Regions from separate parts of the Homo sapiens genome. Here regions 2 and 3 are each linked to region 1. Evidence: fine-mapped expression QTL. A gene starts in region 1. Each other region holds a variant in brackets. All regions are shown on one strand. Distances are from middle to middle. Region 1 holds the start of LINC01081 (long intergenic non-protein coding RNA 1081). Region 2 has its middle 18 kb from the start of LINC00917. Region 3 holds the start of LOC124903744 (a long non-coding RNA gene).

Region 1 (2,848 bases):
AGGTGATCTTCAGCGTTCAACAAACTTTGCTTCTCTGGCCACCTCCTTAATCAACTGCAGCCTTTTTCTATTTCTAGCCTGAAACAAACTCCACAAACACTGGCTCTTTCTTCATCTTCCTCCCTTTCCAATGATAATACTGGACAAAAATGGGACAATCTGTAATTTTTGCCCATTTTCTTAGGAATTTTTCCCCTCTAGTTAAAAATCAATCAATCAATCACACACACACACACACACACACACACACGCACGCACGCACGCACGCACACCATGAATTGAGTCAGGGTTCCCTCTGATCATCCCCACCGCGCTCTTCCTTTTGTCTGAAAGGGGCTGGGCAATGATAATTGTGCTTCTGGGGTGAGAGGTGTGGTGTGGGGGGATTCGCAGCAGAGGCTGCGGCAGCTGGTGGGGGGTCCTCCTTCCTGGTCCTCCGATGACTCCGACGACGACGAGGAGCTCTGAAGGGAGACCAGGAGGCGTCTCCACTGACCATGGGGCCCAGCAGCGCGGGGCCCGGGGCCAGCCCCGACCTTCCCCTCCACCAGCGGACGGACCCACAGCCTGAAGGCGGCTGGCACCAGAGGGGCCCCGGCAGGAGCCGATGGGCTGCGAGCGCGCTGGCGAGGGGCGCAGGAGAATGGAACGGGGACAGGGGAGAGGCAGAAGGAGGAGGAGAGGGAAGCCTGGAGAAGAGGAGAGCGCAGAACTGAGGAGCGGGGCAGAAAACAGAGGGAGAGTTGCAGACCGGGCTGAGCTGCAGCGGAGCGCGGGAGTGAGCGGCGGCGGGAAAGCTGGGGTTAGGGGGCCAGGACGTCGCGGGCGAGGGGCGGTGGTGAGTGCAGCCCAAGGGCGCACCGTCCCTGCAACAGCTTCGCGGGCGGGAACAGCAGGAAGGAGTGAGCCTTGGGCGGGCGGTGGGTTTCAGAGGAGGGAGGGCCGAGCAGCTGCAGGGGACAGAGGGGCAGAAAGACAGGGAGGCGGGGAGAAGGTAGGGAGCGGTTCTGGGTAACTACTTCGCTTCGGAAACCGCCCGGGTCTCAGGCCCCAAGGGCATCCCCCTCCTCCCAGATCCCCGTCTTGGGTCCCTGGACCCAAGTCCCGTGGAAGGCGACACCCGCGTCCCAGACCGCCGCGGCGGCTGCTGCCCCCACACGTCTGGTTCGGCTGGCTCTCCCCTGCGAGGGTCGGGGTTTCTGGAGCCCTGCGCACTGGGCTCCCCTTGCCCGCAGCGCCCCTGCGGCCCCTCCTCCCGCTGGCCTGGGATCCCGGAGACGCAGGACGACCTCGGTGCGCGAAGGGGCGGGGGGCGCGTGGGGTCCCTGGGGGCACACCTGCTCACTCATCCCTTCCCGTCTGAGGTCTTCGCTGATGCCAGCTTCACAGGCACGGGCATCAAGGCCCTGAGACGGGAGAAAGGGTAGGCCTCGCAGGTGCACGTGGGAGAGGCTGCACCTAAGCCCCCGCACCAGCCCTGGACCACCAGGGCGCAGGGCCCGAGGTGCGTGACAAAGGGGTGACCTCACCTGTAACAAGTGAACAAGCGTTGACACCCGCGCAGGCTCCAGTGTTCCAACGGCGGAGTCATATGAATCATCCTGATGCTTAATAAACAGATCCCAGAAGGAGCCTGGACATATTAGATCAGAACTTCCCAGGGAGCGGCCCAGGGATCTGGATTTCCAGTGCATGCCCTGCGGTGACCCTCACTCCAGAAAGCTCAGGCCCCACTGAGCTCCAGTGTTCTATCTCCAGACATGGATTACACCCGGGGCTACACAGCGAGACAGCGAACCTGTGCTGGGTCACCAGGTTGAGGGTGGTGGTGAGGTTAGTCTCAAAGCCCAGCCTAGTGGGGCTTCATGGCTCTGTTTTAGCCAAGGGGCTCTTGGATTGTCCCCGGAGGGGTCAAGGGTCTTTCCGCTGTCCTATTCAAAGTGTTTTAGGGTGAAATAATCATGATAATAGTCACAGCACCTGCTACGAATGAAGCAGGCGCTTATAGTCTAGAGAGCTACGGACTTTTGTGAATATTCTGTTTTAATCCTCACAATTGACCTTGGGAGGAAGGTACTATTTATCATCGCACTTCACTGATATGCAAACTGAGGTGCGACCAGGTTATTTTATTTTCTCCAAGTCCTGAAATGGTGCGCTGGGGCTCCCCAGCTCTACCCACAGGTACCTGCCTCCCTCCGGAAGGTGTGGACAGCACAGTGGTGGGCGGCCCAGCCCGGAGGGGGGACTTTGTGCTTCCATAGGAAGGGGTCTCAGAGCCTAGCATCTGGGTGTCCACCCAGGAAGGTGGGTGGGGCACAAGGTGGTCTCTGTTGTCCCTGCAGCTTCTGGGAACCCAGATGAAAGGCAGGAGTGTGGAGCACAGACCTGGGGTCTCTGTAGAATGTGCTGGAGGGTACCAGGAGCTAAAACTATGTGGAGCTGGGTGGGCCCAATAGAGGAGAAGGGAATAGGGGAGGGAGATTCATGAACTAAGTCCAGAGGTGGGGGATGGGAAGGGGAGGAAAGAGCTGATGGCTTTGGAACAGTGCTACTGAGAGAGGCAGGCACTGGGTCTCGGCACCACAGCGTGCCTTTGGTGGTCTCAGGTTCCATACAGGAACCCTGAAACGAAACAGGGAATGCCCTAAAGTGGCACCTCATATACTCTCCAGGTTTCTGGCAGCTCAGCAGTTGGGCTGGGGGTGCTTTCCTGTGCCCAATCCCTGGCACCCTTCCCACACCACCCCCACCCCCATAATGCAGCAGCAGAGAACCTCCATCTCACCGATGGGGGAACTGAGGCCCAAAGAGGTTGAACAGGGAGCCGATGGCCTGGAGCTTGCCT
Region 2 (2,848 bases), 41 kb before region 1:
ATTGCATTTACCCTCCTACTTTATGAGAACACTGGAGGCAACTTCTGTAGGGACCACGGGGACAATAATAATATCTGGATGATGGACACCCATAGATCAAATGCAGTGAGTGGTTTTCCATGCTACAAACACCCTGACGGCATAGAATAATATTACAGAGTTCAACTGAGGCAAATGTAATACTGGTTTCCTCAGGACCTTCCTGAATTACGGCTGCGGTCCCGGCACACTCATCACAGTGGGCCCTTTACTTGAAAAATGTCTCACTTTGATGATAAATTATAAGATAACCTTAGCTATACATTGCTTATTTTACTAAATCACGTATTTTAAAGTAAATACTATGTCACTTATTTTATTTATTTATTTAATGAGATGGAGTTTTACTCTTGTTGCCCAGGCTGAAGTGCGGTGGCATGATCTTGGCTCACTGCAGCCTCATGCCCCAAATCCCCACAACATGCTTTCAATGCTTGCTTTCAATTTGGAAACCTCCATCAACAAAAAGAGGTAGAAACCACACAAAGACAGGGGGCTTACCAGCCAGTGATCTAAGCCGGCTGCCAGTAGCCCCTATGGCATCTTTGTGCAAATTAGAAAAAGGTGCTTTTTCTCCTGACATATCTAGCCCTGAGCCAGGTGCAAGGCCTGGGGAGTGCAGGATGGGCTGGCCTTCAACCCCCACGTGTCTCCTTGGCCAGGCACCTTGGGCAGTAAACAACCTGCACAACCAAACCCAGCAGCCCAGAGTCCAAGAGAGTCCTGGATGTTTTCTTACTGCCTTTCACAAAGAGTTTTACTGTCAGTTCACAAAGAATAATGAAAGGCAATTGCAGGGCCAACTGGTAGCATTTGGCTGTGTGTCTGATGTCGGTTCCTTGACATCCTGGCTTTCATGAATTGGTATCACTTGGGCGGGCTCACCCTTTTGCTACAGAAGAACCAAGTTAAAAGGCGGGCCATGGTGGCTCACGCCTGTAATCCCAGCACTTTGGGAGGCAGAGGCGGGTGGATCATGAGGTCAGGAGTTCAAGACCAGCCTGGCCAAGATGGTGAAACACTGTTTCTACTAAAAATACAAAAATCAGCCAGGCGTAGTGACAGGCACCGATAATCCCAGCTATTCAGGAGGCTGAGGCAGGAAATTGCTGGAATCTGGGAGGCAGAGGTTGCAGTGAGCCAAAATTGTGGCACTGCACTCCAGCCTGGGTGAAAGAGCGAGACTCTGTCTCAAAAGAAAAAAAAAAAAGAAAAGAAAAGAGGCCTCTTGTTGGTTCCTTCCCTTTCTTTGCATTGCTGAGGGAGTGGAAAGAGTAAAGAACGGCCCCATCTGAAACCCACTCTCAGTGGGAAGCTCTGGCATGGATGCTGGTGTTTGTGGGGCTGCTGTGATGACTCCATGGCCAGGGCGTTGGTCAGGTGCAACTCCGGGAATGGGGAGTGTTCTGGCCTCAGGCCGTGAACGTCTGGGAATGTGGGAGGCACCATGGAACCTTAGACGGCAGAGACAAGCTGCGAGGAAAAGCATGGAGGAGGTGGGCGTGCGCAGAGGCAGCTTGGACTCCAGGCAAGGAGGTGGCCCCACTGTCTCATGCACGTTCATTTTTAACTCTGTTTCACAGAAGAAGAAACTGAGGCTCAGGAGGTGATGAGGCAGCTTGGCTAAAGTCCCATGGAAGTGGCCACACAGCAAGTAAGTGG[C/T]CAGGATTTGAATCCAGAGCCAGCACATTTAGCCCTTGGCTGCCGTCCTCTGGCCGTGGCATTGCTGTGAGCCCTCTTAGGATTCTTTTCACCAGTTAGAGCTGTGGCCCCGCATCTTTGGTTTATCTTGAGTAACAAAGTCGGAAATAGACAAATGTGATCTTTGAAGTCCTGGGGACAACATTCAGCATGGCATCTACTATGTCAAGGGCTTCCTCTCGGATTGCAGTGTCGGGCATGAGGGTACATTGCATGTATGCCAAGCAACATTTTTGTTTTCTATATTTAAACTTTGCGCCCCCCCGCCCCCCACAGACACACACACTGAAATCCTGGAAGAAGCTACCTTATTTCTCTTGTGTTTTGGCTCTTAGGAAACTCAGAGGCGAATTTATGACCATTTGGAAATTGTATATAACTTTAAATTAGGAACTTCTATGTCTACATTATCCCAAACTTCATTCTACTATTCAATTCTCATCTCCCTTATTTCCACAGTGCTTATTTCTCATAGATTGATAGATAGATAGATGATTGATAGATAGATAATGATATGAAAGTGAATGGTGTATTTTTAAGTATTCAAATAACAGATAAAGTGATAGACTAAAATTTCCTACAAATAAAAACAATTTTAATCCTACTGTGCACTAGGGTAAGGTTACAATTTAAATAGCACAGCCAGGCACGGTGGCTCATGCCTGTAATCCCAGTACTTTGTGGGGCCGAGGCAGGTGGATCGCTTGAGGTCAGGAGTTCAAGACCAGCCTGACCAACATGATGAAACCTCGTCTCTACTAAAAATACAAAAATCAGCCAGGCGTAGTGGTGGGTGCCTGTAATCCCAGCCACTTGGGAGGCTGAGGCAGGAGAATTGCTTGAACCCAAGAGGCGGAGGTTGCAGTGAGCTGAGAACATGTCACTGCACTCCAGCTCCAGGTGACAGAGCGAGACATTATCTCAAAAAAAAAAAAATAATTAAATAACACAAGAACCCTGTCACTGAGAAAAAAAGACATAATTAAATAAGAAAGAGAAGCATGTGAGCAATGTAACAGAGTGCAGAAGCTCTGGCATAGGCTGTATTTGGCTGCTGCTATGTACTGTATGCTTTACATGTATCATCACACCTCACTTTACACGTGTC
Region 3 (2,500 bases), 63 kb after region 1:
TCCTTAGGGAGACTGAGAATTGCAACCTGATTGCCCAGGAATGGAGTGGAGGGTCTGGGCTTTGGTCCTGACACCCTGATTTGCCACTGCTCCGTGCCACCTCCTCCCCTGTACTTTGCTCCTGGGTCTCACTCGAGCTTACCCTCTCTGAAACTCAGTTTCCTCATCTGCGAAACACACAGATTCATCAAGAGCTGTGGTTCTCACTAAAGGGTGATTTTGCCCCCAGGGACATTCAGTGGTGTCATCACCATGAGGGGGGTGCTACTGGCACCTGGTGAGTGGAGGCCAGGGATGCTGCCCAACATCCTGCAGCGCACAGGACAGCCCAGATTCTCCATCAGCAGTGCCCAGGTGGAGAAGCCCTGACCTCGATGATCCCAAGCTCCCAGAAATTGTAACTAAACTCCCAAAGCTTGTCAGAAAACGAATTCTCTGTCAAAATCCCTAAAAGGAAAGAAAAAAAAATCCTTTCTCTGCTTTCCCAACTCCAGCCCAGTCTCACACACATGAACCTCTGCAAAGATGGAGCCAGGGAGGCTTGAACACAGTTGTGTTCCAGACAGAAAATGACTTAATTCTCCAGAATGGACCCCTATTTTATGCTATTTAATATCTGCACACGATTCCAGACCCTTTCTTACTGCTGTTCAGAGCAAGACAGTAATTTCATTCTTTTTCTTTTTCCTTTTTTTTTCCTGCTCCCTGCTGCCCTCACATTGAAACTCCGTGAACTCTGGCGTCGGTTGTAAGAACGTCTTTATAAAGGGTTGCACGAGATTTCTTACTATATCAGAGTTCCTGAGGATGATGTATCACGTTACTAATTCCCTTAATTGCATGTCTGGGCTAAAAACAGACTCTCTTAGTTTTTCTAAGAAGTTACATTCTTAATGACATTAAAACACGATGGTAAATGAAGCTAAATGCTAACTGATGTACTTAAATCATGAATCAGTCTATAGAGTGTTTACCTAAACTTGTTTATCCTTCTTGGTCACTCATTTTGTAGGTTTTGCCAACACTGAGTCAGATTCGGTATCTGGAAATGGCTCAAGAATTTTTGTTTTCTTTCGATTTTTTAGCCCCAGACTGAGTGGATGCTGCAATCATGCAGTAATCAAAGAATTAGAAAAAGCAAGAGGCTGGAGGCTGATTCATTTCCCCGGCTTTTTGCAGGGTGGGGAGGACAGAGAAGCTGCAGGGAGAGATGAAGTTTTTTCCTTGAGGATGAAAAGCTCTTAACCTTGCACGTTTGGCTTCTTCTATTCAATTTTTTTAAAAGCAGAGATAGGGAGGTATGTGATTAATAGCAAAAGACAGCATTTAAGGACCGCCAGGTGCCAGGTGTTCTAAACGTGCCATGTATTTTAGCTCACAGAATCCTCCCCACAAAGCCGAGAAGCAGGAAGCAGCAACCCTCCCAGATGAAGAAGCGAAGGCTCGGAAAAGCTAAGTAACTTCTCCAAGCTGACGCAGCTCGTGAGAGGAGGGACTGGGATTCAAATCCCTGCAGGGGGAGACCAGCAGCCCCGACTT[C/T]AGCCGCCATGCCTCCTGCCTGAGAAGCTAGCTGCGAAGGTTCCAGAAGGAGACTGCCCTCCGGGAACAGAAACAGCGCATGACTGCGACCTGTCTGCAAAAATCTTGATCACTTGTAAATCCTTCTCCACCTGATAAGTTATCACATTGGCTCATGATGTTTTTTTTCATTCTCAGTGAGTTCAAAATACTATTTTGGTTTGTCTCAGTTTCTTCCTCTCTCTCTCTCTCTCTCTCTCTCTCTCTCGTATAAAGGTATCCACATGTCACATGTCATTTGTTGATAATTAAATTTTGAATAGACAATTCATTGTCAAAACCATCAAACAGTATACTACATGTCTGCATTTGACTCTATATACATTTTACCTAACAAGGAAAGCCCATAAACAAATACGAAAGTCTGGCTAATGATCCACATACAGAAGTGTTTGGGAGGATGGGCTCTGAGATCTACAGCTTACTTTGAAAGGCATCAAAGTGTATTGACGGACGTCTGGATGGATGGAGGGATAGACGTGTGTTAAACTAAACAGACCAACATGGCAATTACAGAAACTAGATGATAAGTACATCGATGCTCACTGTACAATTCTTCATGTTGCTAATTTTCATTAACATGTTCAAAAATTCTGAATACAGACACTAGGTAGAAACTCCAAAGACACAAGTTAAATGTAAGTAAGTCTTCCTCCACCTCATCCTGTCTGTCAGTCTTTCGGGTTCCCTAACAATGGCAATGGCAATCCCTAGTACCTGTGGCTCTGGGGTATCATTCCAGGGATATTCTATGCCTGTTTTAACACATAGATGATTTATTTTCAGTGATGATAATGATAACTAATAATTATGCCGCACTTGCTACATGCCAAGCACTGTCCTGTTTAACATACATTGATTTATGAAATCTCTTCAACAGCCCTATGGCGTGGATGCTGTTACTACCCCATTTTACAAAGGA

The links.
Region 2: its variant is fine-mapped to the expression of LINC01081 in testis (GTEx, PIP above 0.99).
Region 3: its variant is fine-mapped to the expression of LINC01081 in stomach (GTEx, PIP above 0.99).

What each region holds. Positions count from the first base shown.
Region 1 is chr16:86,285,039-86,287,886 of GRCh38, reverse strand. LINC01081 (long intergenic non-protein coding RNA 1081) reads left to right here and starts at 1,640. Exons shown (of 6, transcript NR_104139.1): 1 at 1,640-1,833. It overlaps LINC02135 (long intergenic non-protein coding RNA 2135), which reads right to left and starts at 1,456. Exons shown (of 3, transcript NR_038438.1): 1 at 1,338-1,456. RefSeq lists an enhancer at 2,051-2,736.
Region 2 is chr16:86,326,139-86,328,986 of GRCh38, reverse strand. No RefSeq gene overlaps it. Among named protein-coding and RNA genes, the nearest start is that of LINC00917, 18 kb to the left of the region's middle. The variant C/T (reference allele first, on the strand shown) is at 1,702.
Region 3 is chr16:86,221,732-86,224,231 of GRCh38, reverse strand. It overlaps LOC124903744 (a long non-coding RNA gene), which reads left to right and starts at 1,160. Exons shown (of 3, transcript XR_007065165.1): 1 at 1,160-1,298; 2 at 1,375-1,715; 3 at 2,459-2,500. The variant C/T (reference allele first, on the strand shown) is at 1,540.